Linked DNA regions of Homo sapiens. The protein of the gene in region 1 purifies or fractionates together with the protein of each later gene. This does not show direct contact. Each region holds a gene or a part of one and is shown in the gene's direction. Other genes may lie near its edges. The genes, in order: RICTOR, KRT10 and CAD.

Region 1 (7,626 bases):
TTTTCATGATGACTGGTGGCTTCGAGTAGCATGTTACCTATCAGATTTTTTAAAAAAAATTAAAAAAAAATTTCCCTTCAAGGTAGATGTGATAACAATAACTAAGAAATTTAATACTTCCAAAAAACCTGTGCTAGGATGAGAGCATTTAGAAAACAGATATTTGAAAGTGTTTCAGTTTTGTGATTTTTTTCTGAAAAAACTTAAAATATAAATGTGTCACATATATAAATTTTCATATCTGCACACTTGAAAATCATGGGAACAGAGTTTCCCAATCTGCTTCAAAATCTTTCAGATAAATGGTTTTGCAACCATTTTGCTGAAAATTTCTAAATGTTATGTCTTCTAGTTTGATAGGAAAACTGATTGACATTAGGCAAGATGAATATTTGTTAGCCAAATTACTAGTTTGATAGGAAAACTGATTGACATTAGGGAAGATGGATATTTGTTAGCCAAATTACATTTCAAAAAGCTTTTGTATCACTGGGTGGACGAAATGGGAAAATGAGTTTTATGGTTTAGAAATGCGGCCAATACAGTAGTTCTTCCATTTTTAACTTTGCATTTTGTGAGGTCTCAGCTATTAAAACCCTATACCCACATAAACTCTTCTTAGAACTAGACTTTTAAATTTCAGTATCACAAAGTATATAACAAGAAATGTCGAGAATAATGAAGTATATTCAGCCCCATTGCTTTGTATTCGTGTCATTAGTAAAATAACATTAAAAATTACTTTTAACCATTTTTATTTTGTGTTTATGTTTTAAGTTCTAATTTAATTTAAAAAGTGAATATATATGTATTGCAGTGTATGTGCAAAAGTTCTTTTTTTAATGAACAGATGCACAAATAATTTTGATTGTTTATAATGACCTGTTAAGTAAGTCATTATTATAATCAACTGTTTATAATTTTGGTTTAGAATAGCCAACAAAATTTTTCTAAAATAGTTTTCCTAAAAAAATTCATGAGTAAAAATTTGTTTGGGAACAAGTAAAATGAGAAAACGGGAGAGAAAAATCACTCCAAATTCTACCATCTGTAGATAATAACTGTTGAAATTTTACTGCATACCCTTCTAGATTTCATTTTTTAACATATCTTCATCTTCCATAAACATAGGTTTATTCTTCATTTAAAACTGTTAGTCATAGAGAGTCTCTTTAAAGAATTATTTAAAAGGAAATTTATATGAGATTTTGGGACAGAGATTAAAATTTAAAGACACAATACTCAGGGGCTCTGTTCTGCTGTGACCAAGACATAATTAACACTGGATGGGATTGTAACATTTGTTAAATTTAATTCATTGCTTGTCGTGTAAATGGCCTTTAGATGTCTCAAATGTGCGGTTTAACTATGAAGTTACCAAGAAATAGTCTGACCAAATTTTGTGGCTTTTTACTTGCTTTATCTTCAAATGGCCTATGTACCAAGGCAGAGAGATTAAAGGGAACTAAGATTTTGATAAGGCTTTTGTTTCTGTTCAGTATTACAACTGTATCCCAAACCGATAAAATATGGTTTACATACTAGAATTATTACTAGAATTCTAGTTATATACTAGAATTATTAACTGCATGCAGGAGGGTAGAGAATAGAACCAAGGGAGTGACTATGAATGGAGTAATTGTATCCTCAGAATTAAGCAGTTATCTTCCAAAGGTATGGTCCTGGACTCGATCTTCTTATAGAACATTTTTTATCAATGACTAATACTACCAGAAAAAAAAAAACAGTCACTGACACAGCAAATGAAACCTAGCTGGGAAACGAAAACTAAGAAGAGGAAGTCACATTCTCAATGACCAGATTAGAATCAAAATAAAAATTGGAGAAGTAGTAAGAAGTAAACAAAATGAGTAAGTCATATGGGTCGGCTAAAAGATGCAAGGAAGAAAAAGAAGTTTCAAAAGGAGGAATAGCTAGCAATTGGCAAGTATCAAAGAAGAAAATTTAGGGGTTTTAACAAGTATCAATCTGACTATAAACAATAAAGTAGTGCTACTGTTTAAAAAGCAAACACATTATAAAATGTATTCCTTACTAAAATTTATCTAAACTTCTGCTTCCTAGTTGAGTGTCACTTGCAAACACTAATAACTTGTTCCTTTTCACCAGACCTGCCATTCACTCTAAGAGCAAATATGGAGAACCTAACCACTCAAACGACTGAAATAGTAACAGAGAAAAAACTAGTTTCGATGAAAGATTGAATGTAATTTTTTCTCCTGCAAGAAATAGAGTAATTGAATAATTGTCTTTAATAGCATACAGTTATAATGATTAAAATACTACTGGATTTAGGCACTTATGTACCTCAAGTAACTTAAAAGTAGATTAGTTGTACTCAACTTTCATAAAACACCGAGAGAAAATGAAGTTAAATTGTATTAGGAAGGAGTTAATGTAGAATATAGAGGGATTTTATAATATGATAAAAGATTTGTTGAAAATCAGAACAACTGTAAGAATCTGGTATAATTTCTACTGATAGATCTCTACTTTTCTTTAAGGGTGAAATGTGGTGATACATGGAGGGTTGAAATCCAACCCTCTGCCAGACCTCAAGTTTTGTGATTTTTGTTTTAGGCAGTAACTAGAATAAATAAATTGCACCAAGATTTTTAAAGCTATAACGGAGGGAGCACGCTTGTTGACATTAAAACTACTACTGGTAATGCCAGAAGACATTTCTTTAAAGTACTGTAATTGTGTTACATCCTTAAATCTAAGTGCAGTATCAGCCGCAGATATCTGATTGTAGACTTGGTTTAAAAAAAAAAAAAGAACTGGAATATATAGATAATTGGCAATATTCTAAGGAAGCAGTGTTCCTATTTTATTTTCCAGATGATGCTACTTTATGTTCCTTTTATTTTTCTTCTTACCACTTATTTTACAAATGACATATATTAACTATAGGATATTTAAAAAGTAGAGACAAGCAAACAAGAACAAAAAAGTGCACGTGTAATTCCACAAATGAGGGGAGAAAATCAGCTAACATTTTCATGTATATTTTCAGACTTTTTTCAACATACATGTACATATAAAATATTTTATAATGTATATTTTTAATTTCGTACATATTTAAACTTTTATTATAAAACAGGAAATTTGTAATATTTTGCTTGATTTAATATCATGAACATTATTTCCTATTACTAAGTCTACCTCTTCACTTTTAATCGTTGACATAATTTACATAATCCCTACCTTTGGTCATTTAAGTGTTTCCAAATGTTCACTCTTATTAACAACTTCAACAAATATCCCCAATATTGCTTTTTTTTTCTTTTTTAAAGTAAGCAGAGAATTGGAATAAATTAGAAATCCAGGGCACTTACTCATCCAACAGATATTTATTGAATACTTATTTGTGCCAGATATTGCATTAACTGGGAGCTGGGAAAACAGAACTGGTTAAGGCTAGATCTCCACTTTTAATTAACTTTCAGTCTCATGGAATAGAAAGATGAGCTGAGGAACTGGAGAGGACAAATCGCTCCTCTCTTTAAAGTAAATGTAGTTCAAGAGAAAGCTGCTGGGTCAGTGGCCAGGTGTGTGTGTGTGTGTGTGTGTGTGTGTGTGTGTGTGTGTGTGTGTGTGTGTGTGTGTGTGTGTGTGTACACATACGTATTAACTAAGCAGTTTCTAGAATTAAAATCCCTAATGTTAATAGGCTTATGCATAAAATAGATTAATCCACAACACCTGCATGAGCCACGATCCTAGGAGCTGCAGAGCCATAAAAGCCGGACACAGTACCCAGCAGCCTCGCCTCGGCTCCCGGCAGAGAACACCCTCTCCCCGGCCTCCCGGCGCTGGCGCGATCCCACCGCGGGGACCGCCGCCCTGGTCCCCGGCCGCTGCACCCCCTTCTCGCGTCCTACGCCTGGCGGCCAAAAACAAAACTGCCTAACCACTTCCACTTGGAGAAGCCCTCCTAGCCGAGAGGGGCATTCTGAAGATCAAGGGCGAGGCTGGAAAACAAACTTTGTTACGTGTTAACTTAGTTGGAGCAAAGCGATTCCAGGAAAGGAGTCTAAAACTGTGCGCAGCGTTTTTATAAAAAAATGTTTCAGTGGATACACGGGGGAGCGGGGCCGTCTATGGCAGGGCTTCAGAGCAAGCAGGAGACTGGCAGGCCGGCGAGAGCAGGTGGCCCGCCGGCCGCATCCCGGCCTCCTCCTCCCCGCTCGCCTGCATTTGGACGACGGCTTCCGCGGCGGCCGGAGGGGAGCATCCTCTACACTGCCAACTCGCATCAATGGGACTTTCCTCGTGGGAACTGCCCCTCCCGGCGGACGTGCCCTCCGGGTCCGGCGTGGGCGGGCGGGTGCCGCGAACTCCTTGCAGACCTTGGGTCGGCTCAGTGCTCCCTCAGCGCTGGGGCCGAGCCTGCACCACCCGCCGCCGTCGCCGCCGAGGGGGCGGGGGAGGTGCCGCGGGGGGCGGGCGCGGCGCGCGGGGAGGGGAAGGGGTTCTCGCGCGATTGGGCGAGGTTTCCGGTGTTGTGACTGAAACCCGTCAATATGGCGGCGATCGGCCGCGGCCGCTCTCTGAAGAACCTCCGAGTACGAGGTAAGCCCGCTGCAACCCTCACTCCCCACCGCCCGGCGCCCGCCACCCCTGGCACTTGCCTTCCCCTGGCCCTGGGTTGGGGAGCGAGCCGGGGCGCTGGCCGGAGCCAGGGCAGCCGCAGCTGGCCTGCGAGCCAATCCTAATTGGGGCTGTGTGTCTGTTTCGCGCAGGGCGGAATGACAGCGGCGAGGAGAACGTCCCGCTGGATCTGACCCGAGGTAACGCGGGGCGCCGCGGGCGCCGCGAGGGCGCGCTGCTGGGGAGGAGCCGGGTCCGGGGCTGGGGGCCAGAGGCAGGGGCGGGCCCCGCACGGGACCGGCGGGGTGCGGGGGCCAGAGCCGGAGCCCCGCCTGCCGGCCCGCGGGAACCGAGCCCGGGGCCGCCTCGCCGGACCCATCCCCCTACCCAGCGCCCGCTTCCCTCGCCCGAGCCCTTCTCCGGGCCTCGGGCTGCTGCGGGTGCGGGGGAGCCCCGAGTGGAACTCGGCAGACCCGGCGACCCTCTGGGCTCGAGCTCCGGCAGAGTGGTTTGCACCTATCCCGGAGTCCGGCAGCCCAAGCTAGGGGCAGCTGGAGGGAGGTAGAGGCTGTTATTTAGGTTGCAGGAGGATGTTTGAGGGAAGAGCGACCACATCCTGCCCTCCCCGTCCCCGGAGCAGAAGCCGGACCTGCTCGGTGCTTGCCGACTGCGTGACTGCTTTCCCCTTTGCCCACCGTCCTGTGGGGACCCGCAGCATTGATAACTTGGTAGTGAAACCTAGAACTGGTCATTACTGCTAAATGTCTGGTTTATGCTGTTTCCCTTCTGCTTCCCTTTCCCGGGCCGCTGGGACTGTAGTTGGCTAAAGACCGCCCCCTCACCCTGCTGCAGGTTCATTGTTTACCTTCTGCAGTGGAGATGGGTTTGTTTACACCTTCCGAACTGGGGAAACTCGGGTGATATTTTTAATGACCTAATCCCGTTACTAGCCAGTGTTTCCTCTATCACTTACAGTACTAGAGTTTATTCGACATTATCTCGTTGAAGATTTAGTAGTTACGTACAAGATTCTTTTCTCTTCCACGGTAAACAGGATTGAGCCTACTGATTCCGACGAAGTCATATTTCACACGGGCTGTAGCTTGGAGTGTAACCCGGTTCAGCTGTACAGAATCAGTTTCTGAGGTCTATAAAACACCTTAGGAAGTAAACAAAAAAACTTGTTGTAGACATTCTGTATGAGATCAGTTTTTTACCCTATGTCGTACCTGACGTAATGACTGTTATCTACAGTAATTTGTTAAAGCTGGGCTCCTTGTTGACAACGGCTAGAGTGAAAGCATAGTGCATTTTCTAATTTGTTTTATTTTGCTTATCACGATGTAAGATTACTGTTTTATAAACTGAATGGTCAGCTTTCACTTAGCTACAAGAGTACATTTTTATAACTTAATATTTTATTCTGAAAGTTCAGGGACTTAGTTTTGGGTGAACTAGGTCCTTTTACAAGACAGTTTCTAAAATATAATACAATATAGTAGAGCTTAAATCCTGAAAATGGCTACTAATTAGATTATCAATGCACTAATTTCCACCATTTTTTTCAGCAGATCGGTTTTGAGAATTAGTATAGAAAGATGTAAAGCTTTTGACTTCTGTGCAACTGTTTGGAAACTTGACTATAACACACATGTGAAAAATCTATATAAAATAGATTCACTAGAAAACTTCCTAACAAGGATAACTTCTACAATTTCAGGTCTGTAAAAGATGTAATTAGTGAGTGATTTAATTTATATACAGGCATATGTGTTTTAGATGAAGGTGAAGGGAGCCCTTAATAAACTTGAGTTTAACTTGTGCATTAAAAACCTGCTCAGATGTGGTGCTGGAAATATATAGTTGTATTTTAAATTGAGTTCGTCGAGCTCCTATATATAGTGGTTTCTCTGCTTGGTGTCAAAAATGTTGAGTTGTGGAAGAGCTTAGGTACACATCTGATTTGATAATTTTGGCTTACTCCAGTTTTACTGAGGCACACAGGTAACTGTTTACTATTTAAAATGCCATATTAACTGAGAATTTAGTAAGCACCTATGTCCATAGGTATTTCCAGGTTAATATAGATAGTGCAGAAAATGCTGTTTTCGGCTTGCCCTGACAAAATGTACTTCAGTTTGGAATAAAGTATACACAGCCATTTAAAACTGATTGCAAAAATAAAGAGTGAGGGATTGTTTGAGATCTGTATTTCTAAATCATAAGGAAGTTTGGAATTAATCTGAATCAGTCATTTTATAGTGATACTATTGTTTTAAAAAGTTGCTGTTGTGACAGACATTTCATTGTTCAAAGAAGGCTTGAAGAAAATTCATGAGGAATTAAAGTTTAGTAATAATTTGAGAACTGTGAGGCAGTTTGGGTTGCAGCTGAAGGGCAGCTGTTTGTGGATTAGATTACAGTATGTAAAAAGATAAAGTTTGGGCAACCAAAAATTTTTTTGTTTAATGCCAAGGCAGTGTTTGCTTTTATTCTTATTTTTTAAATTTAATCTTTGAGAGATTCATTGTGTAGTTACCTAATAAAGCTCATTATAAAATAGAGGACATGGTCATTGTAATCCCTAAAGGATCCATCAATGTGTAGTGAAAAGAGAGTTGACTATAAAGTCAAATCATTCTGGATTGTAACCTCAGCTGTGAGATTTAATAGTTGGGTGATTTGGGGCAAGTTATTTGACCTTGCTTTACCCCTGATTTCTTCATTTCTAAAATAAGAGATAACTTCAAAGGGTTAAGAATGTGAAAAGTAAATGAGCTAGTTCTTAATTAAAGTACTTGGCATAAGACCGGATACTTTGTAAGTGATATTTAACATTAGTTGCCTTCCTACATTGTGAAATCACAGTTTTAAAACTCACATTAAAAATACTTTAAACGGTTGTTTTGAATATTATAAACTTGTTAATAAGGAATTATGGTATTCGAGCTTCTTTTTTTTTTGAAACATACTGTTATACTAATTGGGTATAGTCTATCTGAGTTAGAGTTC
Region 2 (7,487 bases), on another chromosome or scaffold:
TACCTAAACTATGCATTATATCTCAATTATATGTATTATATCTCAATCAGAAAAAGAAACTTGCAAATAGAATTTTCAGCTAGAAACTTCAAAAGCGGATTTTACTTGAAGCAAAATAAGGAAGAAATAAAAAGGATCCAAATCCCAACAGTGAGACAAGTCAAACTGATAACAAACTTGAATCCACAACATGCTTCTAGAGCTCCGGCCAAATTAACCCCATGCGAATAGCAACTATATCCGTCTTAACCACGACTCAAAGTTCAGAAGCAATTAAAGAAGAAATTGATAAACTGGACAACATGAAAATAAAATACCATAAGCAAAGTCATCAATTCCAATATTGGGTATGCATCATGAATTGCCCCACCACTACTCAATTAAAATTGTCCTCTGGAAGGATGCCAATGGTTCCAAATTACTTTCCTCAATCCATCTTTTCATTGACCTCTCGGATGATCACCTCACCCACGTTCTCTTCTCCCTTGGCTTCACTGATCCTCTTTCCCCCTTTCCCTGGTCCTAGATGTCCTTCTTTTCAGGATTATTCTCTAGCTCTACTTCTTCTTCCCAGCCCCTAAAGTGACTCCAAAAGTTCAGAATTAGACCTTCTGTACATTTCTCTCTAAATTCCTTCCCTTAGGGATCCTAACTACCCCCAAAATCTGCTATTCTGAATCTCTCTCCTTAACAGCAGTCCCATAATTGCTTAAAGACATGTTTACATGAATATCCTGGTATTACCTCAAATTCACGTCTTAAACCAAAACTCATCCTCAATCCCGAACTTTACTTCAATATTCTTTCATTGTGCACTCACACCACACACACACACACACACACACACACACATTCACTAGACTGTTAGACAACCTCTCTGTAATTCCTCGGAACCCTGAACATTGCTCAAATATAGCCCAGATTACCCTATATTATAATCTCTGATTCGTGGGTATGTTTGTTTGCCTCTCCAAGTAGATTGTAAACTCCTTGAAGGGTAGGAGCTGTATCTTGGTCACCTATGCCTTCCCCAGGCCATATTGCAGGTGCTCAATAAAACCTGCTGAAGGTATGAATAAATTAACATATACGGATGATCTACTCCAGCCAAACTGGTCACTCAGTGTCTCCACTTGCTTGGCATTTTCACAGTCCTGACTTCCCAGAAGTCTTCTCTCTGCTGTTGCACACATGAAAAGTCCTACTCATCCTTACAGGACTCAGCTTAAATTTCAACTGCACCATGAAACTTTGTCAATTGGCCCCATTCCAACATGACCCCTTGCTCATTAGTCTTAAGAATGCCAGTCTGGTGTCATGAAAACTAGCACCTTTGTAACTGTATCTCTTGATTCAAAACCAGGCTGTGTGTCATCACACAGACACTGCTGATATATAAATAAACAAATACATACATAATCTGGCAAATTTCTAAAACTTTTTAAGGTTTAGGTTTTTTAGCTATTAAACGAGATAATAATACCTATCTTAGAGAACCTAGGGCAGGATTAAAGAAAAGTAAACCATCTAGATCATAGAGATATTCCGGAAATGTTAACTCCTTCCCCCTACACATCCAAGCCCCACCATCATTTTCCATTTATATAGCATACAGTGCTTAAACTGATGGTATATGTCATGTCTCCTCAATTAGACTGTAACTACTGGCAAGATCCATAAGGACGGGAGGTGTATCTCATTCATTTTTCTATATTTTAAATACCTACCAATGCACTTTACATAGAGACACAATAAAAATTGAGCACAATGAAAATACAGTTACAGTGGATTATAGCAATCAAGTGTAAATGGTGCCAAGACTAGAATCATAAATGTTCATCCAATTTAGCTGTAGAATTATTATGTGGCATCTCTTAATTTTACTCATGCCAAAGGCTGATTTCAACAAATGACAGTGTGAATAAAGACAAATCAATTTCTACAGTATACAAGTTAATAAGTAATCTTTGGTAATAACAGTAAAGGTAGCTTAAATTAAATGTTATAGTATTAGAAGGCCCTCCATACCTGTATTTGTTCTTATGTACTTTTATGCAAAGATTCCCTTTCATATATTCTTTGGTTTAATATGATTGTAACAGAGCTCTCTTCATACCACTTGTTAATTAACTGAAAGGAGACTGGGATTTTTATATTTTCCACTGGGGGGAGAAATTATAGGCTAATACTAAAACAAAATTGGTAATACTAAGATCCAAAACTTGTGCTAATTACAGGTAAAATCAATCAAAATATCTTTTTAATTAAAATGTTTCTTTCCAAAAAGATTTCATTAATATCAAGGTTTCAACATGTTCTCTGAAGTTATTGGAGTTTTTTCTTTTCCTATCCTGATTTATCATAGCCTTCTTTAACTGTAGGTTATCTTCATCAAGAATCAATTCCCATGGTTGGGTTTCAGTTTTTCTTTTAACTACTGCCCCATTTGCATGTGCTAACAAGTTGGAAGAGTTGCAATCTGCTGGGTAGTAACCTCCACTTTAACAATCAACATTTGATTAATGCTCCCAACCACACTCCCTTCCCTACAGAAACTATTTCTGTAGTTTTCATAAACCAAAATGTGCAGCAATAAACTTAATTTGAAAAAACAATTACTAAAGGTAGAGTGTGTGCCAAATCATTACCCTTTGAATATTTTCATGATTCTAAGTTCTTTTTGTTTTGCTCTTTTTCCCCATTTGGAGAAGTTTACGGTGAGAATTAGAGTCATTCATCTCCATTAGACCAAATCCACTGGAGCAGATAATATATATACACATTGGTAAAGTGGAAAAGAACCAAGGAGTTAAAAGACCAAGCTTCTAATTGCAGTTCAACCACCTGTTACATATCTTCAGGAAAAAATCACAACCTCTCAACTTCAACTTCCTCTTCTATAAATTAGAAATAACAATAACCACACCTGTAACCCCAGCACTTTGGGAGGCCAAGGCAGGCAGATCAAGAGGTCAGGAGATTGAGACCATCCTGGCTAACATGATGAAACCCTGTCTCTACCAAAAAGACAAAAAATTAGCCAGGTATGGTGGCACACACCTGTAGCCCCAGCTACTCGGGAGGCTGAGGCAGGAGAATGGCGTGAACCCGGGAGGTGGAGCTTGCAGTGAGCCGAGATGGCGCCACTGCACTCCAGCCTGGGCGACAGAGCAAGCCTCCGTCTAAAAAAAAAAAAAGAAAGAAAGAAAGAAAGAAAGAAAAGAAATAATAATAACCACCATTCCTATCTCAACAGCTTGTTCTAGAAATTTTTAAAGCACAGTATCACAAACAGCACTACATAATTGTAAAACATGTATGAATATATACATCCAAACAACAGCAATGTCATAGCCTATGGGTAGATATAATCTTATACAATGTACCAAAATCCCAATTTACTTCACTAGACAAACTGTTATACCAAATTCTGTACACAGTATATCCAAGAAAATGTGTTGTTTTTATTGAGAAACTGAACCTAGCTTGGGAACACATGTGCACAGTCTAGTTCATAATATTTGGTGCAAGTATCATTCTCTAATATAGATTTACATTTTTGCAAGCAAATTTTTACTTGCAATCATAACATATCCAAATTTTCCCTTTTTACTCAATCAGAACTTAGTGTAAAGTACTACAAGTTAGTTCTTCGGATTTCATGCTAAGAAAATAATGCAGATTTTCTGCATTATTATGGTCTTCACAGAAACCTTAACTATGATGAATTTAAAAGTGCAAAATAATCCAGGATAACTTTATGATTTCAGATTTTTTAATGTTAAAAATAATGCCATCATTAATTAGAAAATTCTAAAATCATTACTTCCACTTTCTTAGGCAAAATATCAATATACTCTCATTTGCCAAATAAATTAAAAGATCTCCTACAAACACAATCTCCTAAATTGTGGTTTTATGGCTTTAATGTTTTATGTGTGGCAACTATTGATGCTAGTTAAATTTTTAGAAACTTTTTCTTTTTGATTCCCTACAGTTGTCTACAAGAACCTTATTGTAGCATGATCCTGCCAGACTTTATGCTATTTGTTGCTCCAATTAAAACTGTTTAAAACATGAATTTGAAAAATCTTATTTTAACTATAATTTTGTAGCTGAAACTTTTTTTTCTAAACTTTGCAAACATTCTATGCAACCTGAATTAGTGCTGAGAAAAATGGATCTTAACGGTTGCTCAATGTTCTTCAACAGGTGAAAAGCATAATAAAACATGCTCATCTGAACTCCACCCATTTTCAATTTCAACATAGCAAACCTCCTGTTTATTCTTAGGGCAAATTCAAAATTGTACATATTAGGATTGGTTATTACTGAAGATAATTTATGCAATCATAAGCCAAAGATGCTAAGTTGGCAAAAAGAAAACAATGTAAGTAAGCAAACTCTAACACATGTGGACACACCCTCTCAGTATATAAAGGCTTGTCACTGTCCTTGGTAGCAGGCACTCCCTGGGCTAAACAGCATCACCATGTCTGTTCGATACAGCTCAAGCAAGCACTACTCTTCCTCCCGCAGTGGAGGAGGAGGAGGAGGAGGAGGATGTGGAGGAGGAGGAGGAGTGTCATCCCTAAGAATTTCTAGCAGCAAAGGCTCCCTTGGTGGAGGATTTAGCTCAGGGGGGTTCAGTGGTGGCTCTTTTAGCCGTGGGAGCTCTGGTGGGGGCTGCTTTGGGGGCTCATCAGGTGGCTATGGAGGATTAGGAGGTTTTGGTGGAGGTAGCTTTCGTGGAAGCTATGGAAGTAGCAGCTTTGGTGGGAGTTATGGAGGCATCTTTGGAGGGGGCAGTTTCGGAGGTGGCAGCTTTGGTGGGGGCAGCTTTGGTGGAGGCGGCTTTGGTGGAGGCGGCTTTGGAGGAGGCTTTGGTGGTGGATTTGGAGGAGATGGTGGCCTTCTCTCTGGAAATGAAAAAGTAACCATGCAGAATCTGAATGACCGCCTGGCTTCCTACTTGGACAAAGTTCGGGCTCTGGAAGAATCAAACTATGAGCTGGAAGGCAAAATCAAGGAGTGGTATGAAAAGCATGGCAACTCACATCAGGGGGAGCCTCGTGACTACAGCAAATACTACAAAACCATCGATGACCTTAAAAATCAGGTAAGAGGTATTTTTAAATCCAGCTTTAAGTATCTTGTCCATGTAATCCAGACAGATGAATCTTAAATTAAGCACAATGTGGCTGTTCACTATGCTTACCCATGTTACTTTCTTCCTTCAAAAATAACCCAGTCTCATCAAAGATAAACATCTGTGAAACTATGGTCATGGCAATCTTCATCCAGCAAGTGTGCTACTTGTCTTAAGAGGATGGGAGATTTACTAAGCACTTTTGAGGTTTTAATGAGCATACAATGAGTCCACAGTTAAAATATGCTAGGCTATTTACAAATGTAGAAACTGAAAAAAAAAATCATGATATGAATCAGAACAAAATGTTATTCAGACTGATAACAAGCCATATTCAGTACCAACATGGCAAGAAAAATAAATTTTCCAGTATGAAAATGGGACACTGCTTGCCTCTAAGGAATTTCTGAATTGTACCTATTGTGTACCAGTTCAGAGTGTATTTATTTATTAGTATTTATCATGAGTTAAACAAATGCAGGTGTGAGTCAGCCAAAGCATGGCTGAAATACATGGAAATCACATAGTCTAAAAGAGGAGGGCACACTTACAGGAATACATCTATATAATTCCAGTTAGTTTTCAGAAAGGAATAATTCGTGTACAGAAATACAAGACTGGAGAAATTCCAAGAGAACAAATAATTCAAAGTTAAGTATATGGGTAAGCCTGCAATATTTCATATTTAAAATAAAAAATTTTCCCAAGATTTTGTAAGAGAACAACATAAAAGTGCAGAGTGCATCTATGTCACTACAAAAGCCATATCTGCATCTGACCTCTTCTCAAATAACTGTGCCTCTCCCTCCAGATTCTCAACCTAACAACTGATAATGCCAACATCCTGCTTCAGATCGACAATGCCAGGCTGGCAGCTGATGACTTCAGGCTGAAGTAAGTTAAGTGATCGTTGTATAATACTATCACAACGAATACATCAGTGGTTTTTAACAATGACTTGGGATGCCCTCAATAACATTTACATTTTTCTGAATTCACCCAAAGTTAAATAGTATTGGAGTTATCTGAGAAATTTTCCATGTCAGTGTTACCTTTTTGGCAATATTAAAGGAAGAAAATGCATTTTAAAGTAACTGCTAAGGTTTTTTCCATTAAACCACTATTACTTCTAAGAGAACTGTACATGACAAATATTGCCATTACATGAGATCAACTATGTAGCTGCTTTTTAAATAGTCTCTGCCCAGATACATCTCCCCTATATAAGTTATAACCAGTATTGATATCATGCTTGTTTCAGGTATGAGAATGAGGTAGCTCTGCGCCAGAGCGTGGAGGCTGACATCAACGGCCTGCGTAGGGTGCTGGATGAGCTGACCCTGACCAAGGCTGACCTGGAGATGCAAATTGAGAGCCTGACTGAAGAGCTGGCCTATCTGAAGAAGAACCACGAGGAGGTGACACAAAAGTTATACTTTTCCCAGCCAAAAGAGAGTTCATTATGGTCCTCGTGTAGCCAATAAATCTTTCTGTTCCTCAAACAGGAAATGAAAGACCTTCGAAATGTGTCCACTGGTGATGTGAATGTGGAAATGAATGCTGCCCCGGGTGTTGATCTGACTCAACTTCTGAATAACATGAGAAGCCAATATGAACAACTTGCTGAACAAAACCGCAAAGATGCTGAAGCCTGGTTCAATGAAAAGGTAAAGTAATCTTCCTTATAGTGAAACTCATGGAGGTTTTATCATTTCAGAATTTCCTCACCCTTTTCCTTGTTTTTAATACTCTAGAGCAAGGAACTGACTACAGAAATTGATAATAACATTGAACAGATATCCAGCTATAAATCTGAGATTACTGAATTGAGACGTAATGTACAAGCTCTGGAGATAGAACTACAGTCCCAACTGGCCTTGGTATGTTAACTCTCATGAAATGACTTCAACTTTATCATACAAAGTTTCATGCTCACCTAAGAATATGCAATGCAACAAAAAAATGCAGAGTTGGAGGTAAGAAAGAGAAAACAAAGTGAAGCTCATGTTAATGGAGGAAAAGTACTACTAGTGTTGATCTAAAAGTGCTGAAACTGAAATGGTGCCATTAAACATACAACAAATTCTGTTCATTTTCTTATTCTTCTATATAATGCCTTACTAAATAATCAAATAAGCGTCACCATACTCAACTGAACAAGGAAGTCACTAAGCCACAAAAAAATCCGTTTCAGAAACAATCCCTGGAAGCCTCCTTGGCAGAAACAGAAGGTCGCTACTGTGTGCAGCTCTCACAGATTCAGGCCCAGATATCCGCTCTGGAAGAACAGTTGCAACAGATTCGAGCTGAAACCGAGTGCCAGAATACTGAATACCAA
Region 3 (7,106 bases), on another chromosome or scaffold:
CTGCACTGTCTCCTGCCTTCATCCAAGTAGGCAGGGAAGCTGGAGGGAAAGGGCTGTAGCTAGAGCTCATGGTGTTGGGGCTTATGACAGTCAGTGACCCTGAACCCTGCTCAGTCTGATCCCCCAGAGCTGAGGACGGAGAGGAAGAGTCTAGGCCTATAGATAGTGTCAGCAAGGCCAACCTGCAGAAGGCCTGACCAGTCTTCTCTGCCCCAGGATGACCAGCTGAAAGTTATTGAATGCAACGTACGTGTCTCTCGCTCCTTCCCCTTCGTTTCCAAGACACTGGGTGTGGACCTAGTAGCCTTGGCCACGCGGGTCATCATGGGGGAAGAAGTGGAACCTGTGGGGCTAATGACTGGTTCTGGAGTCGTGGGAGTAAAGGTAAGGAATATCGAAACCCTTGGGGTTAGCAGAAAAATAGCGGGAGAGAGTTCACTCACCACACAGAGTTGTCAGTATGTAAACCAGGCACTGACTGCAAGGCATTGCCGGATCGTGGGGGTAATGAGGTGGTCATTGTCCCTTAAGAGCTTACTTTATGGTAATGGGAGGGAAGAGAAGTTGGATCCCCAAAAAAGCTTTGGTATAGAACAGTCCGTGGTAAAACTACATATTCGACCTGTAAACAGAATGCTGCAGGAGTTCAAGAGACAGGAGGTGCTGCTTCCAAAAGGGGTGATCTGGGAAGGCTTGAGCGAAGGGGTGCTATTTGAATTGAGTTTTGAAGGATGGTTAAGGTTTTTTATTTGCAAGGGCACATCCTAAGCAGAAGCTGAGGGATGACCCCAAGTACGTTTGGAAAGCAGGAGGGCACACAGAGAGGGCAGGCTGACCCTGCCATTCAGATGGGATCAAGCACAGGGTACTGTGTCCGTCTCTGCTGGTGAGGGAGGAGGTCCTCTCACACCTTGGCCCTCTCTCTTCCCTCCCGCCCCTTTAGGTGCCTCAGTTCTCCTTCTCCCGCTTGGCGGGTGCTGACGTGGTGTTGGGTGTGGAAATGACCAGTACTGGGGAGGTGGCCGGCTTTGGGGAGAGCCGCTGTGAGGCATACCTCAAGGCCATGCTAAGCACTGGCTTTAAGATCCCCAAGAAGAATATCCTGCTGACCATTGGCAGCTATAAGGTATCAGAATCCAGGAGGGCTTCCCGAGGGCCGTGGCTCCCTGGGCCAGGGCTGACCTTGAAATGGAAGACAGGAAGAAAACAATTTCATCCTTCTGTTTGGTTTCAGAACAAAAGCGAGCTGCTCCCAACTGTGCGGCTACTGGAGAGCCTGGGCTACAGCCTCTATGCCAGTCTCGGCACAGCTGACTTCTACACTGAGCATGGCGTCAAGGTGCAGGAACTCTGGCAACCTACCCCACTGCTGCCCTTCCCCAAGGGGGTGAAAATACTGCACCAAAGAATTATCTGGGCTGGGCACGGTGGCATATACCTGTAGTCCCAGATACTCAGGAGGCTAAGGCAGGAGAATCTCTTGAGCCCAGGAGGTAGAGGCTGCAGTGAGCTGCGAGTGTGCAGTGAGTGCACCACTGCACTCCAGCTTGGGAAACAGTGAGATGCTGTCTCAAAAAAAAAAAAAACAAAGAATTATCTCCTATTCCCCTGCTTTTATTATTACCATTATACTAGTAAGCTATATTCCATGCAGAAAGCAGAATACACAGGAAGCAAAGAGAAAAGTCTCTTAAAATCTCTGTACCACTGTTCTGATATTTTTCCTTCCAGGATTTTCTCTGTGTACATGTGTGTGAGCTCATACTGCACCTAGTCCTTGGTAACCCATCTTACTTAGTGTAGATATCTTTCCTGCCAAGAAATACACTTTGCCAGTATCAAATAGAGGCAGCCCTCAGTGCCCACCCTATGGGTCCTCAGTCTCCTCATCATGGGCTCCTGGGCCAGCTCCTCTCCCTTAAGGCTAGCCTTCCTGACCGCTGCCAGACAGCTTGGCCCTGACCTTGACTCCGGGTTGGCAGGTAACAGCTGTGGACTGGCACTTTGAGGAGGCTGTGGATGGTGAGTGCCCACCACAGCGGAGCATCCTGGAGCAGCTAGCTGAGAAAAACTTTGAGCTGGTGATTAACCTGTCAATGCGTGGAGCTGGGGGCCGGCGTCTCTCTTCCTTTGTCACCAAGGGCTACCGCACCCGACGCTTGGCCGCTGACTTCTCCGTGCCCCTAATCATCGATATCAAGTGCACCAAACTCTTTGTGGAGGTAACTGAGACCCATGTGCTGGGAGGGAGACTGCCAGTGTTGATGGGAAGAAGAAAGAGGGAGGAGTGAGTATGGAACAGCCATGCTAGTAATAAAGCTTTGTGGCTACAGAGGGAGAGATGGTGGGTATAGAGTGTGCAGAGCCTGGTTTATGGGAAAACCACATCTCTCCCTACAACTCCCAGGATCACCCTTCCCTTAAAGCTGACTGCTTTCCACTTGCAGGCCCTAGGCCAGATCGGGCCAGCCCCTCCTTTGAAGGTGCATGTTGACTGTATGACCTCCCAAAAGCTTGTGCGACTGCCGGGTAAGTCTTTGGGGAGAACTTGGCTTCTGAACACTGGCAGCCCCTGGCATAGAGACCTGCAGTGTGGTGAAGGATGGCTGGGGGGCCCACTCTTTGTCCTGGACTGCACAGACTGTGAAGACCCCAGAATGTTTCTCACTCTTTCATTCCTTAATCCACAGTGTCCACAGTGGCCTTGTCTGAGGAATTTTTTTTTTTTTTTTTTTTTTGAGACAGAGTCTTACTCCATCGCCCAGGTTGGAGTGCAGTGGTGTGTGATATCGGCTCACTGCAACCTCCGCCTCCCAGGTTCAAGCGATTTTCCTGCCTCAGCCTCCCAAGTAGCTGGGATTACAGGTGTGTGCTACCACACCAGGCTAATTTTTGTGTTTTTAGTAGAGACGGGGTTTCACCATGTTGGTCAGGTTGGTCTCGAACTCCTGATCTCAGGTGATCTGCCCACCTCGGCCTCCCAAAGTGCTAGGATTACAGGCGTGAGCCACCATGTCCAGCTCACCCTTCCTATTTCTGAATCTTCCTGTAATCTTGCTGCTTCCATTTTCTCCCAGGATTGATTGATGTCCATGTGCACCTGCGGGAACCAGGTGGGACACATAAGGAGGACTTTGCTTCAGGCACAGCCGCTGCCCTGGCTGGGGGTATCACCATGGTGTGTGCCATGCCTAATACCCGGCCCCCCATCATTGACGCCCCTGCTCTGGCCCTGGCCCAGAAGGTGAGCCACTGCACTCTTCCTGGTATTGGAGACCCATATGCCCCTACCAGCCACCCTTGCTTCCCTGAGCCCTTTTCCTTCTGCCCCGCCCTATGGGCCCAGGCCACTGGTGCCAGGCTAGCCTGTGTGGGCATGGGTGCCAGTGAGCCTTACCTCTGTGTATCCTCTCCAGCTGGCAGAGGCTGGCGCCCGGTGCGACTTTGCGCTATTCCTTGGGGCCTCGTCTGAAAATGCAGGAACCTTGGGCACCGTGGCCGGGTCTGCAGCCGGGCTGAAGCTTTACCTCAATGAGACCTTCTCTGAGCTGCGGCTGGACAGCGTGGTCCAGTGGATGGAGGTAGGGAGTGTGCATGTGGCAGGAGGCCACCACCCAGTGTCTCCTGGCTTGTGGGCCCCTGCCTAAGTGGGCTGGTAGCAGTGAGGATTCAGGGGAGCTCCTGGGGACTCTGGGCTCTGATGAGCACAGTCAGAGATTCTGCACACTCCTTCATCAGTTCTTTCTGCTCCCAGCATTTCGAGACATGGCCCTCCCACCTCCCCATTGTGGCTCACGCAGAGCAGCAAACCGTGGCTGCTGTCCTCATGGTGGCTCAGCTCACTCAGCGCTCAGTGCACATATGTCACGTGGCACGGAAGGAGGAGGTAAGAGTACACCTGAGATCCTGCTGTCCCTGTTGCTTTCCCAGTAACACCAAAGGTCAGGGTAGTCCTTAGGGGCAGGAGACAGCAGGAGGAGAGTCTGGAGACAGCAGGAGGAGGGTCTCGAGCCAGCACCCTTGCAGGTCTACATCATCATTTTTTGAGCAGGGATGTTGGCCATTGGGACTTTGTGTAGGGCAAGGCATATGGGTGGTGCCTCTTCTGGATCTTCCCATTGTTCCCCAGATCCTGCTAATTAAAGCTGCAAAGGCACGGGGCTTGCCAGTGACCTGCGAGGTGGCTCCCCACCACCTGTTCCTAAGCCATGATGACCTGGAGCGCCTGGGGCCTGGGAAGGGGGAGGTCCGGCCTGAGCTTGGCTCCCGCCAGGATGTGGAAGCCCTGTGGGAGAACATGGCTGTCATCGACTGCTTTGCCTCAGACCATGGTGAGAGAATCCAGCATGTACCTCCTCTGCCCAGTGGGGCTTGTGGGACAGCCCTAGCAAGAAAATGGGAAGCAGGCCAGGCCTCAGGACTCTACTAGGACAGGGTCTTGATCCGTATGGGACCCTAGCCTCTAGGGTACCTGGTCTGTGATAGGTGCCTGATAAATACTTGTTGAAAGAATGAATGAGCCAGTGAGTAGAACTGCAAGTGAAAGAATACATGGGTAAAAGTGTGGGCTCCAGAAGATGGCAGCAGTCCTGTTGCCCTTGTTTCTAGTTCCCAGAAAAAATGAGCATTGGGAGTGGTAGTGAGCATAAGGAGGTTGTTGGAAGTGCAGTCCTGGGGTGTGAGTGACTTCCTAGACATGGAGGTGATTGGTCCTGAGGGTAATGGCTTTCTTTCTCCCAGCTCCCCATACCTTGGAGGAGAAGTGTGGGTCCAGGCCCCCACCTGGGTTCCCAGGGTTAGAGACCATGCTGCCACTACTCCTGACGGCTGTAAGCGAGGGCCGGCTCAGCCTGGACGACCTGCTGCAGCGATTGCACCACAATCCTCGGCGCATCTTTCACCTGCCCCCGCAGGAGGACACCTATGTGGAGGTGTGGGGATGAGGCCCAGAGCAGGAGGGGGGCTCTCCAGCCCTAGGATATGTTCTCTGGGGATCCTTTCCCTAGCATAACCCATGTCCTCTGGGCAGGTGGATCTGGAGCATGAGTGGACAATTCCCAGCCACATGCCCTTCTCCAAGGCCCACTGGACACCTTTTGAAGGGCAGAAAGTGAAGGGCACCGTCCGCCGTGTGGTCCTGCGAGGGGAGGTTGCCTATATCGATGGGCAGGTACGCAAGTAGCCCCTGCCTGATCTCAGTAGTGCCCTCTTCTGCACCACGTTCATTTCTTCCCTTCCCAGCACATCTACACTGTCCCACTATGTGCACCACTGCCCTGGACCAGGGGTTGGGGGCACAGCTCCCCCAAGGTGCTTTTTGTCCTTGCTGACATCTACCCCTTTAGGACCTGAGTTCTCTCTGCTCCCTCCTGAGTGCCCTGCCTTCTGCCTGCAGGTTCTGGTACCCCCGGGCTATGGACAGGATGTACGGAAGTGGCCACAGGGGGCTGTTCCTCAGCTCCCACCCTCAGCCCCTGCCACTAGTGAGATGACCACGGTATCCACACTACTGGGCTAGGGGGCTGGGAGGTGTTAGTCTCAGGGCAGGATGAACAGCTTGAACATTTTCATTGGTGGTTCAGGAACAATTGGGGTTTTCTTGAGGGACTGAATTTGAAGTGGGGTTGGGTCAATTATTTTTTTAAAATGCTGGGCCAGGCCAGATGTGGTGGCTCACACTTGTAATCCCAGCACTTTGGGAGGCCAAGGCAGGCGGATCATCTGAGGTCAGGAGTTTAAGACCAGCCTAGCCAACATGGTGAAACCCCATCTCTACTAAAAATAAAAAAATTAGCCAGGCGTGGTGGTGCACATCTGTAATCCCAGCTACTTGGGAGGCTGAGGCAGGAGAATTGCTTGAACCCAGAAGGTCACGCCACTGCACTCCAGCCTGAGCGACAGAACGAGACTCCGTCTCAAAAGAAAAAAAAAAAAACAACTCTGGGCCAACGTTATCCCTCCAGACACCTGAAAGACCCCGCCGTGGCATCCCAGGGCTTCCTGATGGCCGCTTCCATCTGCCGCCCCGAATCCATCGAGCCTCCGACCCAGGTTTGCCAGGTAAGAGTGGGGTTCCTGTGACTCAGAGACTGTGTAGGGACAGGATCCACTTCTTCCCAGTGCCTCGCCTTTCTCTACTTACATGTCCTCCTCTCCATCCCTTTATCCTCGTCTGATCTGCCGTGCCATCCTTTGCCTAAACAAGTCTCCCCGGTGTGAGTAGACATCTCACAGCTTCTCACATGCCCTTTTTTGTTGTGGGCAGCTGTGTTCCTCCGCCCAGGAGCTGGGATCCCACGGGGCAGCAGAGCGTGGGGTAAATCCAGGTTGTTGGTTGGTGTGAGTCTGGCCGTTCCTCTTGCCTAGGATGCCTTTGCCAACTGGGAGAGCCCCGGGAGGGCACCACTGCTCCCATACAACACAGCCCCATGGGAAGCCACCTGTCTGTCCCCAGAGCTGCTGCAGTCCCCTGCCCTCCCCTAACCTGCTATATTACTGTGTTGTGAATTGGTTTAACATATACACTGTGATTCAGAGTTCCTGGGAATATGGGGTTTCTTTCCAAACCTCAGCCATAAATGTATATCTGTCCTCTTGTCCTGTTTGCAGCTGAGGAGCCAAAGGAGAAGTCCTCTCGGAAGGTAGCCGAGCCAGGTGAGACTCCACCCTGACACACACTCACCTCGGGGACCTCTGATCTGGCCTTGGTAGGAGGAACCCTCTGACCAGCCTTTTCTGCCCCATCCCTCACTGCAGAGCTGATGGGAACCCCTGATGGCACCTGCTACCCTCCACCACCAGTACCGAGACAGGCATCTCCCCAGAACCTGGGGACCCCTGGCTTGCTGCACCCCCAGACCTCACCCCTGCTGCACTCATTAGTGGGCCAACATATCCTGTCCGTCCAGCAGTTCACCAAGGATCAGGTGCCTGGGGCAGGGAGGATGGGACCACCCAGAGCTTTGAGGATTTGGAAAGCTGGGGCTAGGACCTTTCTAGCTAACTTGGGCTCTTTCTTAGATGTCTCACCTGTTCAATGTGGCACACACACTGCGTATGATGGTGCAGAAGGAGCGGAGCCTCGACATCCTGAAGGTCAGGATCAG

Evidence for each region.
Region 2: the proteins of RICTOR (region 1) and KRT10 purify together in Homo sapiens (affinity purification with mass spectrometry; 2 studies listed by BioGRID and IntAct, with this or other methods). This does not show direct contact.
Region 3: the proteins of RICTOR (region 1) and CAD purify together in Homo sapiens (affinity purification with mass spectrometry; 2 studies listed by BioGRID and IntAct, with this or other methods). This does not show direct contact.

The regions. Positions count from the first base shown.
Region 1 is NC_000005.10:39,071,299-39,078,924, reverse strand, and holds the start of RICTOR (rapamycin-insensitive companion of mTOR), read left to right. Parts: upstream 1-4,525; 5' UTR 4,526-4,547; coding exon 4,548-4,596; intron 4,597-4,766; coding exon 4,767-4,814; intron 4,815-7,626. UniProt on the Homo sapiens protein: Component of the mechanistic target of rapamycin complex 2 (mTORC2), which transduces signals from growth factors to pathways involved in proliferation, cytoskeletal organization, lipogenesis and anabolic output.
Region 2 is NC_000017.11:40,819,591-40,827,077, reverse strand, and holds the start of KRT10 (keratin, type I cytoskeletal 10), read left to right. Parts: upstream 1-4,463; 5' UTR 4,464-4,492; coding exon 4,493-5,119; intron 5,120-5,960; coding exon 5,961-6,043; intron 6,044-6,410; coding exon 6,411-6,567; intron 6,568-6,654; coding exon 6,655-6,816; intron 6,817-6,903; coding exon 6,904-7,029; intron 7,030-7,343; coding exon 7,344-7,487. UniProt on the Homo sapiens protein: Plays a role in the establishment of the epidermal barrier on plantar skin.
Region 3 is NC_000002.12:27,234,302-27,241,407, forward strand, and holds part of CAD (multifunctional protein CAD), read left to right. Parts: intron 1-216; coding exon 217-384; intron 385-943; coding exon 944-1,126; intron 1,127-1,234; coding exon 1,235-1,339; intron 1,340-1,982; coding exon 1,983-2,222; intron 2,223-2,447; coding exon 2,448-2,529; intron 2,530-3,077; coding exon 3,078-3,244; intron 3,245-3,416; coding exon 3,417-3,581; intron 3,582-3,754; coding exon 3,755-3,886; intron 3,887-4,129; coding exon 4,130-4,331; intron 4,332-4,740; coding exon 4,741-4,931; intron 4,932-5,029; coding exon 5,030-5,170; intron 5,171-5,395; coding exon 5,396-5,497; intron 5,498-5,963; coding exon 5,964-6,060; intron 6,061-6,265; coding exon of another isoform or gene 6,266-6,316; intron 6,317-6,609; coding exon 6,610-6,654; intron 6,655-6,756; coding exon 6,757-6,926; intron 6,927-7,020; coding exon 7,021-7,095; intron 7,096-7,106. UniProt on the Homo sapiens protein: Multifunctional protein that encodes the first 3 enzymatic activities of the de novo pyrimidine pathway: carbamoylphosphate synthetase (CPSase; EC 6.3.5.5), aspartate transcarbamylase (ATCase; EC 2.1.3.2) and dihydroorotase (DHOase; EC 3.5.2.3).